Homo sapiens: one gene and its partners. The protein of the gene in region 1 interacts with the protein of each later gene in a pairwise test. Each region holds a gene or a part of one and is shown on either strand. Other genes may lie near its edges.

Region 1 (8,327 bases):
GTTGGTGAGGTCACACCAACAGTTCTCCCCTCTCTTGCATTAACTTTTCCTTTTTGACTGAATCATCTTCATCAAACCAGCTCACTATAATCTTCTCCCATCTTAAACAAAACGAAACAAAAACCCACTATTTCCCCTTACAGTTGTTGCCATGGCTCTGCTCCCCTCTACAGCAAAACCCCTCAAGAGTTCCTATGGTCTCCAATTCCTTCTCTCCTGTTCTCTCACAAACCCACTCCAATTAGGCATTGCTCCCACTCCTCCCCATCAGTGCTCTCACAAGGTCACCAGTGGCTTCTACATTGCCAATCTAGCGATCAAATCTCAGTAAGTGTCATTTGATATAACTGATCTTTCACTTCCTCTTTGAAACCCCATCATGTGGTTTCCAGGACCACACACTCCCTCCCTCTCCTCCTGCCATGGGTGTCAGTCTCCAGGGCTCTCCCTAACCTCCATGTGTAAGAACACCATAGGGCTCAGGCCTCCATCCCCGTCCTTGGTGCCCTCATCAGTTCATCATTCTAAACACAACCTAGAGGCTCCTCTACTTGCATCACCAATCAAACCTTTCCAACTGAACTTCAGGCTTTTAAATTCAATTTTTTTAATTGACTCAGCTGCTTACTCAACTGCCTAAATAACTCACTTGGCTGTCTAGACACTCCAAACCTGACATATCTAAAACCATACTCCTGCCCTGCCCCCAAAATCTATTACTCTCACATCTCTCCCCAAACCATAATACAACTCCATCCTTCCAGCTGCTCAGGTCAAAAACTTTGGACACATTCTTCTCTACTCTGTCTGTCCCAACTGATACCTAGTCCCCAGGAAATCCTGTTGACTCTACTTTCAAGACATATCCTGAATCCAAGCACTTTTTACTATATTCATTGCTGCCACATTGGTCCAAATCACCATCTCTTATCTGTTTATTACAGGAGCCTCCTAGTCAGTATCATTACTTCTATCTTTGTCCTCATACAGTCTACTCTCAAGGCTGCAGGCCAGAGAAATCCATTTAAAATCCAAGTGAGGACATGTCCTACTCTTCTCAGAACCTACAAATGCTCCCCATCTCATTCATGAGTAAAAGCCAGTCATTCGATGATCCATAAGGCCCTATACAATCTGCCTCCAAGGAGACTCACTGCTTTGCCTGAACATGCTTCTGCCTCAGGGCCTTTGTGTTTGCCATTCTCTCTGCCAGGAATGCAGCTTCACCTTCTCAGCAAAGTCTTCCCAGGCAGCCCTACTGCTGACCACTTCCCTCCCCATCTGCACTCCCTGTTCCCTCTCTACTTTATATTTTTGCAGATCACATCAACCATTCTCCCCTCTCTTGCATTAACACTTCTGCATTAATTATTACTATCTAACATAATACACCTTTTTGTTTATGGTTTGTCTCCCCGATCAGAACATAGGCAGGGATTTTGTCTATTTTGTTTGCTGCTGTAGCCCCAGCACTAGAACAGTGCCAAATACATAGTAAATACTCAGTGAATATCTGTTGAATGAACAATTTCTATAGGAAAACCCCAAAAAGCTGGCCACGGTTTCTCTGGCAGGTCCAGACCACATTCCCTGCATGTTCGAATACAGACAAAAATCCCTATTTCTTTTGGGTTAAAACATGTACACACACAGAGAGAAATAAATGAGCTTACAGAGCTTACATATTCTATGATATTGAAAAACCTTCTCAGCTGGCTTCTGGCATGGCTGCTAAGCTTGGGGAGAGGTATCATTGTCTCTCAGAGCTTACCTCCCAGATCATCCTGAATGAGGATCCTCACAACGCCTCTCCACATTCCTACAACCCCTTCTCAGTTAACCTCTGTAGCAGCCCTTTCTAAATATAGGGCAAGCCTTAGAAGGTGCTTTTCTAAGCTGGCTTATCTGATACAGTATCTGAAATGGGTTTCCCATGTTCTTGGCATTAAAACACTTCTCTAGTCTGGGATTCCCGAAAGTCCTCCCTCAGCCTTGGCACCATCTAATTCAATAGGTGTCTCCTTCAGCCTTCCCCAAGGCCACTGTCCTTGAGCCTCTAAAAGGCCCAGCAGTGCCCAGACCCATCTCTCTTTGCACTTGTAAAGTCATGGAGGTCTTCTTCATTCATCACCCAGGTCTTTAAGCCACCTCTCAACTTTTTCAAAGTATCGCCTTAAGTCGGTACCTGGGCCTAGTCTCACCAGCAGTAACGAGGACTCACTGGCAAATATTAATAATATCCCTTTCCTAAAATTATGTCTCTGTATGTCCACTTGATCATTTCTGAGCCTCTTTGAACTCTTCCTTTTTTGAAAACTCTTGGGGCTGGGCATGGTGGCTCACGCTTGTAATCTCAACACTTTGGGAGGCCAAGCCAGGCTGATTGCCTGAATCCAGGAGTTCGAGACCAGCCTGGCCAACATGGTAGCATTCTGACTCTACTAAAAACACAAAAAAATTGCTGGGTGTGGTGCTGCACACTTGCAGTCCCAGCTACTGGGGAGGCAGAGGTGGGAGGATTGCCTAAGCCCAAGGAGGTCAAGGCTGCAGTGAGCTGAAATCGCATCGCTACACTCCAGCTTGGGCAAACAGAGTGAGACTCTGTCTCAACAAAAAAAAAAAAAAAAAAAAAAAAGAAACAAAACTCTTGGGTTTTGTGTCGTGGCAAAGCTGGATTCCTTAGGTCCAATCAACAGGTTCTCAGCACCTTTGATTGGAAAACAATGGCCTTTTTCCTACCTATCTCTAATCTCTCTGGAGCCTTGTAGAATTGTAAACATTTCCATTTCACAACTTTTATTGTTTCGATACCTTTGTTCTAAAGGGACATACATAATCACACTGCCAGTAAGAGGCCATCACCCGCAAGATATATCAGGGGAATGGGGCCTAGGGAGGATTTCTTACTACCCTCAGCAAGAAGGAAAGAGAACAGAACAACTCCAAACTCTCAGTGCTGCTGAATGGGGCATCCCTACCAGAGGCCAACCATTCCACCCCTTGGCTGTGATTCACTTGGATAAGGATCCTCTCGTTAACTTTACATCACAATGCTTTATCATAATGGCAGCATATCCTGAAGAGAAGGGCTCCTGATTCTGCAAGGACAAAGGAGTTATTTGGCTCAGGAGGGCTTAGGTTCAGTGACATTCTGCCCTCTGGGTCTGAAATGTTTATTATCATTTGCATCATACACACACACACACACACACACACACACACACTTAAAACCACCTCAGTACAAATGAACTTCCTTTTCAAAATGAAGAAACCACAGTGACATTGATATCACCGAGCAAAGCAAACAGAGCTCTTGGGTAAAGAGGCATTACTGGGTGCTTCCTTACTCTTCAACTAACCAGTGTGCCCCTTTCAAATTATTGCAAAGTTTATTTTTATTTCTGTACTCCCAGGCTTAGAAAGCATGTTTCTCTCAAAGGCTTTTCTTATACTATATCTGAAATGGCTTTTCAAAAAAGTAAGTTTCAGATTGTATGACATGCAAAATATACTAGCCGCTTGGCAAATAAACATGCAAGCAGATACCCACGGCTCCATGTCATGAGTTTTTGCCCTTTGTGACTTGCGTTTAGTGGTACTTCATCCCATTCCCCCTAATTCAGAACAGTCTTCTTTACCATTTAATTGGTTTTAGAGACTTAGTTTTCTAAACAGTCTTTCTGCCAATTTAGGATGAGATGAAGCGACAGTGGGATCCAACGTTGGAATCTGGCATGGGGCTGAACTGGGGAGGGTCTGCTGCCACACTGCGGCCTGAGAACAGTCTTCTACAAACATGCCAACCTCGGAATCGGTATGCTGGTTTGAGATCGTCTTGCCTTGTTTATCTAAGCAGAAAAGCCAGATAGCAGATTTGATGGTGGTTATCAAACCCTGTTATTAGTTGACAGGGACCTGCACTGGTGAGAGGCCCATCTACCTGCCCCAGTTCAGGGCTAATTAACAATTAGCCTTTTAACTTAATTCCAAGAGATCAGTGTTTGCAAATCTAAATGCCAGTTTAACAAACCTGTGAAGGAAACACTACTTCCATATTTGCCCACATACTTTCCAACCTTAGGCAGTTTTGTCATCAATAATCCACAAGCTCCTTCCTAGCAAACATTAGTGCCAAGCAAAAAACTAAGAAAAATAAATCGTTTTCAAACCTGCCCTGGGTGTTGTGCAAGTTATCCAGCCTCCTAGGGATGGAGGTGTGGGGGTGCTTTCAAGGTCATAGAGGTCTAAGAAGGCCTGGAAACCAGACAGGTGGTATTCCTTAGCAGTAAGCCCAACCTATAACTGCACCACCCACCCTCCATGGGTATCCAGCTCACAGTCACTGCCCCGTCATGTCTATGCACCCATCTGTCCACTCATCTCTGAACACTGAGACCTCACTGGGATTTATCTATGGCTTAGTAGCTACGAAGGGCTGCTAAGTAGAAGGCATGGCTCTTCTGAGATGCACTTTTCAACTGGAGAGTGGAATGGAAGAAAGGGAGAATGTGATGAAAACCAAACCTTTAAACGTGATGAAAACCAAACCTAAAAGGAGAAAGCACATACACAGCACAGGCCGGGAAGCAGGGAAGATGCAGATTGAAGACCAAGTTTGCTAGACATGCCGCCACCACTGCACCTCTTACAGCCTTGGTTTCCTCATCTATTTAACAAACACAAAATGCTCACTCTGGACCAGGACTATTCTAATGTGCGAGGATACTAGCTTCACAGCTGAAGGCAGGAAGGCCTAGGAAGGTTAGGAATCCTGCACAAAATCATAGCTAGTCAATGGCAGAAAAGGGTTTGATCCTACCTGGCTCTAGGCTCTGCTCTTAGTCACTACATTACACTCTGCCTTCTGTGTAAAGGAGAAAAGCTAGTCTGACTCAAACGAAGAAGACTTTAAGAACAGCTTCTTGGAGCACACTTATGGAAACTGACGTAACAGATCTAGGCTGGGCTGAGAATCACACTTTTATAAAAGGTTGCCCAAGTAGTTACCCTGAAGACCAGCCAGGTTTCAGAACCCCTAAGCTTCCTTCCAGATATAAAGTTATTTGATTCCAGAGTTGTACCCAAGCCCAGAAAGGGAAGATGGGCACCGGGGGCTGAGACTACGTCCACTTCCCACTGCTGCAGTACGTAATCTTTACCATCCTCCCAGGAGCCAGCGGGGGTGCTACACAGATCCCCAGATCCCATGCTATGGCTCCTAGGCTCACCCCCGGAGCAGGTAAGCAGCCTTCCCACCATCCTACCGAAAGAGTTAAATATATCCAAGATTCCCTTACTATCCTTGAAGAAATAAACCTGCCGCTATCAATTCACAAGTGACTTCACACGTGTACTGCACACTTCCATTTGACCCCCACACCCCTGTCAAGTTGCTTTCAGAAAGATCTCTATTCCACAGTCATCCTTCTCTGTCCAGCCTCATAACAACCAACCACCTCAGCAAGTCCCGAGTACCCACTGCAGTGTAGGTCAGCCTGTATTTCTGGGGTTAGGTTCTAAAGTCTGCCTTTAGGGCAAAAGCCAGGTGAAATTTACAAACACTCATGAAAATCCCTTAGCTGGAACCCCCCGCCTTTGAAAAATCAAAAACCAAGAATTAACGTCTTGTGCGTTTCTTTGCTAAGCTTACAGATTCCGTTTCCTCAGAGGCAGAAGACACCAAGGCCTGAGCAAGGAAGGGCAAAGGGTTAAAGAAAGGGATTTCTCCCTCTCTCCACCCTCAGCAGGAAGAGTTGATGTCACAGGTTAAACTGAGTGTATAATATCAGTCTCTATTGTATTTGCAAGGCATATGCTAGGTGCTAGCAGGCAAAGAAATGAATGTAAGACCCCTGCCCTCACATAACCTACAATCCAGTTGGGAGAGATTAGATCATGTCCTAAAGATAGTGGATCACAGTTTAGCACAAAACATCAGAATTGTCAGACACAATGTGCTACAGACATCCAAAGGAGTTAAAGACATTGCTTTAGTGTAGGATGGGGAAATTTTAAACTGGTTCTTAAGCTATGATTATATTCTTAAAATGGGCTGATTCAGCACTAAATCAGTGTTTCAGGCACAATTGACCCTGTCATCTAAGCTTACAACAGTATTTTCTGTTTTGTCTCACTGTCCCTCTTGAAAATACCAAATAATTCACTGGCCTCACTGTCCACAGTAATATGTTGAGCCGAGGTCTTCAGGAAACCATGCGCCATAATTCTGGTACTATTTGGTTATGAAAGCTTAAATTAAATCTCAATATATTGTTATGCTAAGAGAGTCTATATAACTGAGAACACAGAATAACCACTTCTTTATAATAAAGGAATCCTTTTATATAAGCATTTATCCTGACTTCCCCAACAAATTATTTATACCATATAAATACTTTGACCCTTTTTTTCCCCAACCCTGTCATTACTTGGTCTCACACCAGCCTGTGTTAAAATTAAACTTGCCTATTTCTGCTTTCTTGCAGAGTCCTAAGACTTCCTGTAAGTCTCGCTGCCCGTTTTGGCTTTTTCTCTACTCTTAGCATTCAAGGTGACCCAGCAATCCCTGGAAGATGGCCCTGGGCCACATGGCACTCCGAGTGAATAAATGCAAGGAAGCAAGTGCTTAGGTACACATCCTGAATACAGCTCTGATTCTTGGCTAGCTACAGCCACACTTCACTGGGCTTTTTCAGAAGGGAATGGGGTGGAGGCAGGCAAAGAAGGACGGACCCAGAACTTGTTCCAAGGCCAGCTGGAATAGAGTCAATAGTAAGAGTCCAGGCACCAATATTTAAATAGATAGCCCTGACCTATGCATATGGGAAGCAGTTTGATAAATCAACACAATATAGTACACTTCCAAAATTCAGATGCTTGCCGATTTCTCTAGGTCTGAAGAACATTTCTGGCTTTTCCATTTAAAAATGGCATGAGCATGGGTCAGAGATTCAAATCCACATTCTGTTAAGATTCTGCTCAAGCTGAACTTTCAGCTTCAGTTTCTTCATCTGTAAAAAGAGGCAGTTGGACTAGATGATCTCTAGTTCAGAAAATATGATTTTAAGAGATGGAACATGACAAGTCTGAGAAAAGTCAAGAACAAACCTAGTAAGGGTCAGAACAGAACAGACCGCGGGCCTGGAGCATTTCTGGAAGACAGTGGTGGTCAGAGAGAGAGACCCCATAAAGAAGAAAATGAGGGTTGGCAGAAATCCAAAATGACTTCATGAGACTATCTCTTATAGATCTCCTTCTTCTAGGTTCTTCCCTGTGATCATATATAGATCCATCTCTTCCCAGAAGAGCTAAGAGTGATGATTCATAGGCTGGATATACCCACAGTCATCATCACATACCTTCCACCTCTGGGAATGACTCAATCTTAACTACCTAAGAGAAATTAAAGAGTCCAAGGTGCTCAGACCCTGACCTCAGTCACTCGGCGGACCAACTTGGCTGACCATTGAGTAATCTTTTGGAGTCCGAAACTTCTTTAATATACAGCCTGAAAACCTGGATGAAGTTTATGGTATCTACTTCAATTTTATAGTCTCCAAAGCTTTAGGAACACCCGACATGTTTTGGGGCTCTCTGACACAATATTATTCTGCAAAAGTCATAACTGGAGTTTAAAATGTGACTGAATAGTTAAAGGCACTATAGAAAATTTGAACTACAAACATTTATGATAGGTCTTCTATGATCGTGCTTTTATCTGACCGTCCCATGCATCTGATATTTTACTTCTCCTTCCTCAAAGTCCTCTGTTCATTAAACTCACTTTTGTTATAAGTCTAATTAAGACCTATTAAAGTTAAGTTGCTTTGAACATGGGTTTCATAAATATGACTGAGTTTAAAATATCATTACCCAAAAACAACCACCTTTGGCTTTACTCTCAGGCAATCTTAGAATCACAGAATGTTTAAGACACCTTGTAAGGTACCTGACACACAGTAGGTACACAATTACTGCTTTTTAAATGATCATTAACAGCTACCATTTAGTCAGCAAGTACCCATGCCAGACAGGCATTAAGCACTTTGCATATTATCTCTTAATCCTCATAATAACCCCAGTAAGCAGTAATATCTCCATTTTACAGATAAAGAAATTAAAGCTCAAAGTAAATTAACAGCTGCTAATAAAAGGCCGAGAAGGAATCTCAGCTTAGGTCTCTCTCCCACCAGGTCCCTGAAAGACCCCCACTGAGTTTTTCCATAGAGTTTAGGAAGCTGGTCCAGAAGTTTTCTCAGTCTTACTGGCTCTGCCATTTACACCCACATTCTTTACTGTCAAAGGTTGACAACTGACCTGTGCTATGG
Region 2 (3,538 bases), on another chromosome or scaffold:
GCTGGGATTACAGGCGTGAGCCACCGCGCCTGGCCCTGTGTCCCCTCCTATCCGTCTCCCAGTCAGGGGCCCGGTGCTGTGGCCCCGCTGACCCCTCCCCTGCCTCCTCAGCCCCAGGATGGGTGAGTTCAACGAGAAGAAGACAACATGTGGCACCGTTTGCCTCAAGTACCTGCTGTTTACCTACAATTGCTGCTTCTGGGTGAGGAGGGGTCGCCTTGCCCCCACCCCCACCCCCACCCCTCCCGGGCCACCATCAGACCTGGGCAGATGCGATGACCTTTGTGTACTGCTTGTAGCTGGCTGGCCTGGCTGTCATGGCAGTGGGCATCTGGACGCTGGCCCTCAAGAGTGACTACATCAGCCTGCTGGCCTCAGGCACCTACCTGGCCACAGCCTACATCCTGGTGGTGGCGGGCACTGTCGTCATGGTGACTGGGGTCTTGGGCTGCTGCGCCACCTTCAAGGAGCGTCGGAACCTGCTGCGCCTGGTCAGGAGGGCGCAGGGCCACGGGGTGGGGGTGGTGCAGATGGGCCCAAGGAGGTTGTCGCTGCAGGCTTTGAACCTGTGCCTTGCTGTGCTCACCTGGGGGGGGGGTCACGGTCCTTCCACACCTGCCTAGTCCTGTGGGTCCCCACGTTCCTGCTGGACCAGCTGAGGGAAGACACCAGCTCCGCAAGAAAGCTTCAGGGAGGGTGGCCGCCCCTCAGCCCCCACCTGGAGCCTGGGGAGCCGGGGTGGGGACTCTGCTCTGAGGTGCACTAGGTCTAGGCACTAGGCCTCAGAACAAGGGTGCCCTTGTGCTGCCCCCCCCAGTACTTCATCCTGCTCCTCATCATCTTTCTGCTGGAGATCATCGCTGGTATCCTCGCCTACGCCTACTACCAGCAGGTGAGGGGCCTGGGCAGGCCATTCAGAGACACAGACATGCACAGGCGGGGCGGACACACACACATGCACACGCGTGGCTAGCCCCAACCCCCACCCCCATGGTCCCAGAGCTAACCAATGTGCCACTGGGCCCTGGAGATGGGGTCTAGGTCTCTGCAGGGGCACATGGGGTCAGGCAGGTGTCCAGGGGATCCAGAAGCTCTCTCTGCCTCTGCCGCACTTCATTGTCACCCTGGTGACGGTCCTGGCACCACCCAACCTCCCCTCATGCCGAGGTGTGACCTCAGCCCTTCCCTGTGGCTCTGAGCTGGGCCCCGGGCCTCCCCACCGGCCATCCTGGGGCTCTGCCAGCCCCACCTTGGAAGGTCTTAGACTGAGGCTGAAGTTTCCTGCACCCCAACCCCAGCTGAACACGGAGCTCAAGGAGAACCTGAAGGACACCATGACCAAGCGCTACCACCAGCCGGGCCATGAGGCTGTGACCAGCGCTGTGGACCAGCTGCAGCAGGAGGTGGGTGGGTGGTGCTGGGAGGGCGCGTGCATCCCCAGGGCCTCCCTGGACCTCTGCAGGAGCCTCTGGCCCCAGGTCTCAACCCCAGCCTTGTTCTTGATGCAGTTCCACTGCTGTGGCAGCAACAACTCACAGGACTGGCGAGACAGTGAGTGGATCCGCTCACAGGAGGCCGGTGGCCGTGTGGTCCCAGACAGCTGCTGCAAGACGGTGGTGGCTCTTTGTGGGCAGCGAGACCATGCCTCCAACATCTACAAGGTGGAGGTGGGTGTGCAGCGGGATCATGCCTCCAGTGTCTACGAGGTGGTGGGGGGGCACCCCAGTGACTGGCTGTGGGCAGTGGGACACGCCTCCAATATCTACCAGGAGGTGGGGGGTCACCCCAGTGGCCGGATGTGGGCAGTGAGACCACACCTCCAATATCTACGAGGAAGTGGGTGGGCAGCCCAGTGGCTGGCTGAGCTGTTGGTGGCCTGGCTGCCTAGGTGCTAGGGGTGGGTTTGGCCACACCCTGGAGGCTGGAGGCAGTAGGGGCCAGTGGGAGGTGCCCCCTGGGCCCGCCTTCAACACCCATCCGCGCCCCGCAGGGCGGCTGCATCACCAAGTTGGAGACCTTCATCCAGGAGCACCTGAGGGTCATTGGGGCTGTGGGGATCGGCATTGCCTGTGTGCAGGTGAGGGCACATGGGGGTGGCGGTCATCTTGTTGGGGACACGGGGCAGGGCGGTGGCTGGTGGCCCCATGACGTCTGCTTACGCCCACCCGGCTCTGCACACAGGTCTTTGGCATGATCTTCACGTGCTGCCTGTACAGGAGTCTCAAGCTGGAGCACTACTGACCCTGCCTTGGGCCTTGCTGCTGCTGCACCCAACTACTGAGCTGAGACCACTGAGTACCAGGGGCTGGGCTCCCTGATGACACCCACCCTGTGCCATCACCATAACCTCTGGGGACCCCAACCTCAGAGGCAGCTTCAAGTGCCTTTTGCTGCGCACCAATGCCCAGCAGGGGAGGTGAGGGGGGCTGGCGGGGCGAAGTTTGGGGGGTGTTTTGTGGGGCTCCCCAGACACACTCTCTGCCTGGTGGTCAGATGCAGGTTGGAAGGGGCCTTGCTGAGTGGCGCAAGGCCGAGCGTTCCCAGCAGGGGGAGAAACCCTTCACACCCCAGGCCCTTCAGGAACTGGGGCCTTGCCTTGCAGCCACATGGCCCCATCCCAGTTGGGGAAGCCAGGTGAGCTCTGACCCTTGGGCCTGGGCCTCTGCCCCTCCCAACCCAGCCCTCGTCTCCCTCGACAGCGCCCCTGCTGTCTTCCCCACCGCAGTCACCACCACCCGAAATGCCACGTGGTCACTGTGCACTGCCCTGTTCATGTGCCTCTGCGGGGCAGGGCCTTCCTGGTTTTGTTCACTGCTGTACCCAGATGCCTACAACCATCCCTGCCACATACAGGTGCTCAATAAACACTTGTAGAGCAGATGGACGAGCTCGCTGTGCTGGTAACAGATGGTGGTCTGTTCTCAGGGCCCTCGCATCCAGCAGGGCAGACAGACCCACCCCCGCCCCGCCCAGTGTCAGGACAAAGAAGGGCAGAGCCAGGAGGACACACCCCCCATGGGGCTCCAGGGAAGGGAGGTCTGATGCCAGGGACAGCTGAGCACAGGCCTCAGCAGAAAGAACTGAACATGTTCCTAAATGGTGAGATGGTGTGTTCAGAGCCCCTGGGGGAGAGGAAAAATGGTTTCCAAAACCCTTCTGGCCATGGTGGGGAGCAGACGTGGGAAGGGTGCAGACTGGGGGCCGTGCCCAGGTAAGAGGTGTCAGGCAGGTGGGGTGGGGGCAGTAGGGTGAGGGGGTTTACATGGAGGAGCCTATAGGCCCTGCTGGGGGCCAGAGGGTAGGAGGTACCAGAGCCTGGTGTCTGGCAGAGGTACCCTGGAGATGGGAGCCAGGGCTCGGTCACTGATTGTGCCCCCCACTGCCCAGGTTCCTGTCCTTAAGGCTCAGAACTGTAGACCCTCAGGCAGACCCGTTCTCCCCTACCAGAGGACACCACGCCAGATATCTGGGCAGCAGGGACATCTGACCTGGGGTGCTTGCTGGCAGCACTGCCTGGACAGCAGGGCCTCCTTAGGGC
Region 3 (7,495 bases), on another chromosome or scaffold:
TGTGGGAACTGAGGCTCTGAGCACCAACAATGTGACCAAGGGCGCCCAGCCGCCAGAGGCAGGGCCCTGGGCCTCGGACTCCTGCCTTTTCCGCTGCCCTGTTCCGTGCCATCCCTGCAGTGGCCTATGCCCTGCCCCGGGAGGCCCCCTCCAGCCCTCAAGGACTCTGGTTTGCGAGTTTGTCCCAGTGCCAGGCCTCTCAGCACTGGGCTCCCTGAGGGCAGATGTGGGTTTATTCTTCTTTGCCTTTTAGCTCCCAGTGAGCCTGGGTCAGGCTTGGCCATGACAGGGTCATCCAATGAGGGTGCCTCCCTGAGAGGGGGCCGCAGCTCTGCCTCCTGCTCCTTCTGTCCTGGCCCACTTACCCTTTGGTGAGGGTGGCACAGCCGGGAGGAGAGGGGCCCCTCCCAATATCTGGGGCCTGGGGCTGGGCCACAGCTGCCCGCAGTGGCTTACTGCACCGGGTTGGGTTCTGCAGTGACTGCCCGGCCCATCAGGGTGGGGTCTGAATCATCTGCCCTCCCCTGTACCTCTGCCTGCCCCAGAGTTAAGTTTTCTGGGCCCCTGAGCTGTTCACCCTTTCACAAGTTAGCCCAGAGTGAGACATGCACACACACTGTGGCTCCCCTCAAGGCGTCCCCAGCGGCTGTGGGTTCAGTATTAAACCATCCTAAGTCCTCAGCGGCCTTCAGGGCAGGACTGGACATCCCTGAGGCCCTCTAAGAGATGCTCAGCCTGAAGCCTGGACAAGAAAAGAGGCTGGCGGCAGAGCCATCCAGGCCTGCAAGGCCGGGGCAAAGGTGAGCACCGCGCCTCTTTCTCTAGGGCCAGGTCTCCCAGGGGCCCAAGCCTCTGCCCTGCCCACGGGCCCTCCCCATTGAATCCTGTCTCAGCCCGGCTTCTGGGGCAGTGGCCACCCCAGGGTCTGGGGGCTGGGGTCCCCGAGGTGCTGGAGAAGCCCTTCTCAGGCCAAGGGCAGGAAGGCGTAGCCTGCTTCTAAGGCGTGCAGCCTGGAGGAGGCCACAGCAGCGCCAACACATGCAGGTCAGACCTGTTGTGGCACAGGGACTGGGAGGCAGCCCTGAGCCAGCAGGGAAAGGGTGGGGACAGCAGGGTTCCTAGAGGGAAATGACTTCCTTGCAGCCTCGGGGTGTAGCCGCCACACCCACATGCTACACAATACAGGCTGCAGGCTCAGGCCTCCCAGGCATCATTACACAGGCAGGTACAGGCCTGGAGAGCTGAGCCCAGCTCTTCCTCCCACTGTCCCTGGCCACAGCCCCTCAGGCAGTGCTGATTCCCACACTGTGACTGCCATATGAGCCCAGGGCTTCACGGAGGAGATTGCTCAGCACAGGAGCCCGGCGGGAGATGATTTCATTCTGCCCGTTTCCCAGATGAGAGACCAGGCACAGAAGGCTGTGGAACTTCCCCATCCCGCGGACAGCACTGGGAGGGCCAGGACAGGGCCCTGCTCTGCAGGCCCTGCCTTTAACCTCCATGGCAGCCTCCACGCAGAAGCTACAAAATGGCAGTTAGAGGGTTGGCGAGGCACCCAAGAGTGTTTGGCTTCATTTGTTTAGAAAGTTTTAAAAGTAGGAGCCAATGTTAGAAACAACGAGATTTCCCATAAAAGTTAGGAATTTGTGTTTATCATTAGATGTATCACGATGGGCTGGGCCCAGCGCTCAGGACACCTACTCTCCAGGCGGCCCGGACCCCACCAGGCTGCCCCGACTTTATGTACCAGCAGGTCCCTGGAGTGTGTGACTGCCACCCTGAATGCCATCACACTGCAGCACAGGCAGTTTCCCCCCCACAGGGACACACACACACACACACACACACACACACACACAGGCCATGCCCACCCACCCACAGGCTCAGAGCTCCCCTGGCCCCCATCCCAACCCCTGGGGACCCCTCTGGGCACACCTGCTCCTGTCCACTATCCTCTCCCGCTGTCACATCTCCTCCCCTCAGGGACCCAGGCCCTTCCTCGCCCCAGAGAGGCAGCTGGCCAGAAGTCTGGGGACCCCAGGCCCTTGGCTGTTCTGTCTCCCTGAGAAATCAGGGTCGAGTAGACAGACATACCTCCCCTCCTGTCCCTCCTGCTGTCCTTCCCTCAGCCCCCAGGATGGAGACTCCAAGCCTTCACTGCCAGCTCTGTTTCGGACAGCAACAACCATGCCACCTGTGCCTGGTCCTTGTCCTCAGGGTGTGGCAAGGCCATGGGGGCAGAGGAGAAGCCCTGTCCCTGCTCCTGGGAGTCACCAGGAGCCCCAGAGCCCCAGTCCCAGCCAGAGGGCCACCCCAGAGGCTGAGCCATGGGAAAGAGGGCGGATGCTGCAGGAGGTGGCAGTGTTGGGCACAGCCCTGGGGCTGGTGGGTGAGGCCTGTAGAGCTTCCTGAAGGAAGGCGCCTGGGGCTGACTTTGGGAGGAAGGCAGGCCTGTGCTTGGCCAAGAGAAAAGGAAAATCAGGGACTCCCCAGCCCCAGATGGACTGTGGCACCGCATAGAGCAAGCCCTGCCTGGAGCCGGGATGGCGTCTGCCTCTCAGGGTGGCTTTTAAAAGTAGGAGCCAATGTTAGAAAGAACGAAATTTCACATAAAAGTCAGGAATGTTGGTTTATCATTAGATGCGCCATGATGGGCTGGGCCCAGCACTCAGGCTGGTGTCTACTCCACCTTCTTTGCAAACCCTGGAGGGGCCCAGCCCCAGAGGGCTACCAGCCACTGGCCTCTGCCCACTTCTCCCGCAGGCGCACCCAAGGCGCTCCTCTGGCCTGGAGGTCTGATGGGCACCACCCTTCTCTAGCTGCCCTGCCCCTTGGCTGCCAGCTGCCCCCGGCGCACCCCGGGGAGGCTGGGCACCTGTCCTGCGCAGCGTGGACAGAGGGACCGGGGCCTGTCAGCCTTCAGGGAGGGGAAGGGGAGACAAAAGCCACCGGCCCTGCCCGACCAGCTCCCCTGCGCGGCTGCCCAGCTGGGGCGGGCACTCACCCTCTCCCGGCCAGCCTCGGCTGCTGCTGTGCGCCCGTCCTGGACCTACCTCGGGGCGGACTCGCTCCCTCCGCGCCTGGGCTGCCGCTAGGAGATGGGGCTGCAGCGCGCGGGCGAGCAGGGACTGTCCGAGGGCGGGCGCGGGGGTTGGGGGGGTGGGGACGAGGCGGGCAGCGCTTTATGGGGCGGGCGCGCAGGTAGGAAGGAGGCGCTGGTGAGTCAGACCGGCTGCATTCCTTCGCGCGGCGCGCACCTGTCGGGGCAGGAGCTGGGTGCCGCCGCCGGAGCCGGGTCCGCCCCCCGGAAAGGGCTGCGGCTCCCGCGGCGCCCGCCCAGCGCCCCGATCGGCTAGCGGCGGGGGCCGGGGGAGGAGCCACCGCTCTCCCTCTCCCTCCGGTCCGGCCCTGGGCGCGGGGCCTCCCCACCCCTCCAGGCTCCGGGCTCCAGGCTCGGGTGCGCGGACTGCCCCGGGCTGGAGGCGGCCTCTTAGCCCCCGTCCGCACGGGAACCCTCCCTGCCCCGACTCTGGGCCGCTAGCCAACGCCGGGCTGTGCTGCTGCTGCTGCCCCGACGGTCGTCAGCCGCGTACCCCCCTCCCCGCTCTCCGTGCCAGCGCGAGGCATGGGCCCAGGGAGTGCCCCCGGCCCGGTCGGGAGGCCTGACTCCCCGTCCCAGCTCTGCTCTGCAGTTCACGGGGTCCTCTCAGCCTCCAACCCCTAACCTCACGTTGTATCCAGAGGGAGAGCCGAGGAAGGGTCGGGTCCTCGGTGCACCCTTCAACAAGCTACTTAAATCTCCTTACAGTGTGAACAGTGATACCCTGGAGAGGTCAGTGCCGACCTGGCATGGATTGGCACTCGATGCCTTGTTACAGTTGTTCTTAACAAGCTGGTTACAGAGCTGGCCCCTCCCTCCCGTCAGTCCTCTGAGAGCAGTCTCTCCATTGCCACTGCTTACCACGGGTGTTCAGGTCAGAGAAGGGCTTCATTTTTCTTTTTCTTTTTGTTTTCTCTCTCTTTTTTTTTTTAGATGGAGTCTCACTCTGTCGCCGAGGCTGGAGTGCAGTGGTGCAATCTTGGCTCACTGCAACCTCTGCCTCCCGGGTTCAAGCGCTTCTCCTGCCTGTTTCCCGAGTAGCTGGGATTACAGGTGCCCGCCACCACGCCCGGCTAATTTTTGTATTTTTAGTACATCATGTTGGCCAGGCTGGTCTCGAACTCCTGACCTCAGGTGATCCACCCGTCTTGGCCTTCCAAAGTGCTGGGATTATAGGCGTGAACCACCATGCCCAGCCAGGGCTCCATTTTTCTCTAGGCTTACTGGCCAGCAATGCCAAACAACACCAGACTGCTGGCACAGCACTGTCCAAACCATGCGGTTTCAAGCCACCGTGCTTTTTCAACAGGCTGGTCCCTTCCCATGACATTGAGCCCAGTTTATCCTTCTTGTCCTTGAAGACGTTGCACCAACCACGTGCTAGAGAGCCTTCCTTGACCTCTCCACACCCCAAGTTGGTTTATGTGTCCCCATAACCCTTGGGCCATGGCTTTTACATGGCATTTGCCACATTGGTTTGAAATGATGTTTAGGAATCTCGCCACACTGTTGGACTGTGACTCCAAGGGCAGCTACTCTCTAGCACCTAGCACCATGCCTGGTGCATAGCAGGTGCTCAATAAAAGGGTGGTTGAGTGAATGGGATGGTCACACAGCCTCCCTGAGCCTCCATGCTGTCATCTGTAAACAGATTCCTCCACTGCTACCTCTCAGAGTGATTGCAGGGGTGCTGGTTGCAAATGTGTGAGTCGCCACCTTTCCTGGTCATCTGAGAGCTGTTCTGCACAGAGAAAGTGTTCAGAGAGGCTTGCTCCTGGATTTGGGAACAATGTGGAAGGAGTCCCAGTTTGGTTGAAGCACTCAGATCTGTGTGTGTCAGGCCAGCACAAGTGCCCTGTGGACCTGAGTCACTCCAGCAGGTACCTATCCACCCCAAAAAACAGAAACATGGAGCAGGAGCTCAGAGAACGGCCAAAAACAGCTTGCCTGAGGGGCCTGGGTCTGCCAGCAGCACCCATTAGAGAACTAGGGGGTCATATACACCCCACTGTGGGTGGGGGCTGAGGCTTCTTCCTAGAGAAGACCCAGGTCCAGAGCTGGCGATGCCCCAGGCCACTGGGCTCAGCAGCCCCTTCCTCTCTTCATTGCAAACCCTTCTGAAAATGACTAGGGGGCCTGGAGCCCTGTAGCAGCTGAGAGGCGAGATGTCAACCCAGGGAGGTCTCACTAAGTAAGATAAGCCATGAGCTTCCTTGGCTTCTCGGAGTCCTGGGGTTCATTACCTGGAGCCCGCATGTGGACTTGGCAGTGGGGAGTCCCTGAACCATCTCAGATCTTGTGCAAACTTTGAGGAGTATCTGATTTCAGAATGTGGGTTTGCTGGGAGGGGAGCCTTAGCTTACACTGGATTCCCAAATAGGTTACTGGCCCCAGAAGTTTAAATATTGCATGTGATTTTTTTTGTTGTTGTCATTGAGATGGAGTCTTACTCTATTGCCCAGGCTAGAGTGCAGTGGTGCGATCCTGGCTCACTGCAACCCCTGCCTCCTGGGTTCAAGCGATTCTCCTGCCTCAGCCTCCCGAGTAGCTGGGATCACAGGTGCACACCACCACGCCTAGCTAATTTTGTATTATTAGCAGAGTTGGGGTTTCACCATGTTGGCCACGCTGGTTTCAAATTCTTGATGTCAAGTGATCCACCCACCTCAGCCTCCCAAAGTGCTGGGATTACAGGCGTGAGCCACTGCTCCCAGCCTGCATGTGAATTTTATAAAACTAAAATAAACCCCACTATCTCTGCAGCCTTAGGGCCAGAGTGAGGTTGGCTCATAGGGGGCTTCCTAGGCTCTGCAAGAGAGGTGAGGCCCCTGGAACAGGACCGAGCCCAAGGACCTTGGATTGTTGCTCCTCCACTCCCCTGCACTCCTCATGTGGCCTCCAGTAGGTCAGACTTGTTCATTCATTAGTTCAATTATTTATTCATTTTATGAGCAGTTAATGAGCTCCTATGCCAAATGCTGGGGATACCAAGATGAACGAGAACTACGGCCTGCTTCCTTCACTCCCAGTTCAAACCAGGGGTCTCCAAAGTAGGCTGAGTATTCTCGAGGTAGGTGCTAGCTGAGACCCTATTCTTTTTTTTTTTTTTTCTTTTGAGATGGAGTCTCACTCTGTCGTCCAGGCTGGAGTGCAGTGGTGCAATCTCGGCTCACTGCAACTCTGCCTCCTGGGTTCAAGCGATTCTCCTGCCTCAGCCTCCTGAGTAGCTGGGATTACAGGCACGCACCACCATGCCCAGCTAATTTTTGTATTTTTAGTAGACATGGGGTTTCACCATGTTGACCAGGCTGGTCTTGAACTCCTGACTTCAGGTGATCCGTCTGCCTTGTCCTCCCAAAGTGTTGGGATTACAGGCGTGAGTCATTGCGCCCAGCCCTGAGCCCCTATTCTTATACTTGAGAATGTACATTACTTATTGGTAGATTGGCACCTGTTTTATAAAAGAACAAGTTAAAGAATAAATAGACAGGGGATGTGTGGTGGAAAGAGTCCAGTGACCTGTCTGGAGAGCCCGCATCAACCACATGTTCAGACTGGGGGCAGAGGCCTCTCCGGTGCAGAATCCTGGGGTTTGTTTTCTCCTCAGAGCCAAGGGGTTGCTCAATAGGCCCCCTCTTTTTTGAGACAGGGTCTTACTCTGCTGCCTAGGCTGGAGGGCAGTGCCACGATCGAGGCTCCCTGCAGCCTCAACCTCCTGGGCTCCAGTGATCCTCCCACCTCAGCTTCCTGAGTAGCTGAGACTACAGGTGTGTGCCACAAATCCTGGATAAGTTTTTAATTTTTATTTTGTAGAGACAGAGTTTCACCATGTTGCTCAGGTTGGTCTTGAACTCCTGGGCTCAAGCAATCCTCCCGTTTCAGCCTCCCAAAGTGCAAGGATTGCAGGCGTGAGCCACCATGCCCCAAAAAGTTGAAAGAATACAAAAATCACCCGTATTTTTACCAACTAGACTCAAGAATAATATTTTGCTGTATTTATTTATATATTTGTTAAACATTTGTATATTTTTAAATTTGAAGTTGCACTTATCCTGCCATTTCATCCTAAACACTCCAGCATGTATCTCTCAAGAACAGTCCCCCACGTAACCTCAATACCCCCCTTTATTTTTTTGAGACAGAATTTTGCTCTTGTTGCCCAGGCTGGAGTACAATGGTGCAATCTCGGCTCACTGCAGCCTCTGTCTTCTGGGTTCAAGCAATTCTACCTCAGCCTCCCGAGTAGCTGGGACTACAGGTGCATGCCACCACGCCCAGCTAAATTTTTGTATTTTTTGTAGAGACGGGGTTTCGCCGTGTTGGCCAGGCTGGTCTTGAACTCCTGACCTCAGGTGATCTGCCCGCCTTGGCCTCCCAAAATGCTGGGATTACAGG

The links.
Region 2: the proteins of ITGA6 (region 1) and CD151 interact in binary tests that used the Homo sapiens proteins (3 or more experiments, as listed by UniProt).
Region 3: the proteins of ITGA6 (region 1) and ITGB4 interact in binary tests that used the Homo sapiens proteins (3 or more experiments, as listed by UniProt).

What each region holds. Positions count from the first base shown.
Region 1 is NC_000002.12:172,429,925-172,438,251, reverse strand, and holds part of ITGA6 (integrin alpha-6 isoform b preproprotein), read right to left. Parts: intron 1-8,327. UniProt on the Homo sapiens protein: Integrin alpha-6/beta-1 (ITGA6:ITGB1) is a receptor for laminin on platelets. Integrin alpha-6/beta-1 (ITGA6:ITGB1) is present in oocytes and is involved in sperm-egg fusion.
Region 2 is NC_000011.10:835,952-839,489, forward strand, and holds the end of CD151 (CD151 antigen), read left to right. Parts: intron 1-111; 5' UTR 112-118; coding exon 119-202; intron 203-299; coding exon 300-491; intron 492-817; coding exon 818-892; intron 893-1,298; coding exon 1,299-1,403; intron 1,404-1,508; coding exon 1,509-1,667; intron 1,668-1,990; coding exon 1,991-2,077; intron 2,078-2,181; coding exon 2,182-2,241; 3' UTR 2,242-2,880; downstream 2,881-3,538. UniProt on the Homo sapiens protein: Structural component of specialized membrane microdomains known as tetraspanin-enriched microdomains (TERMs), which act as platforms for receptor clustering and signaling.
Region 3 is NC_000017.11:75,717,122-75,724,616, reverse strand, and holds the start of ITGB4 (integrin beta-4 isoform 1 precursor), read right to left. Parts: upstream 3,159-7,495; 5' UTR 3,005-3,158; intron 2,339-3,004; exon of another isoform or gene 2,190-2,338; coding exon of another isoform or gene 2,095-2,189; intron 1-2,094. UniProt on the Homo sapiens protein: Integrin alpha-6/beta-4 is a receptor for laminin. Plays a critical structural role in the hemidesmosome of epithelial cells. Is required for the regulation of keratinocyte polarity and motility.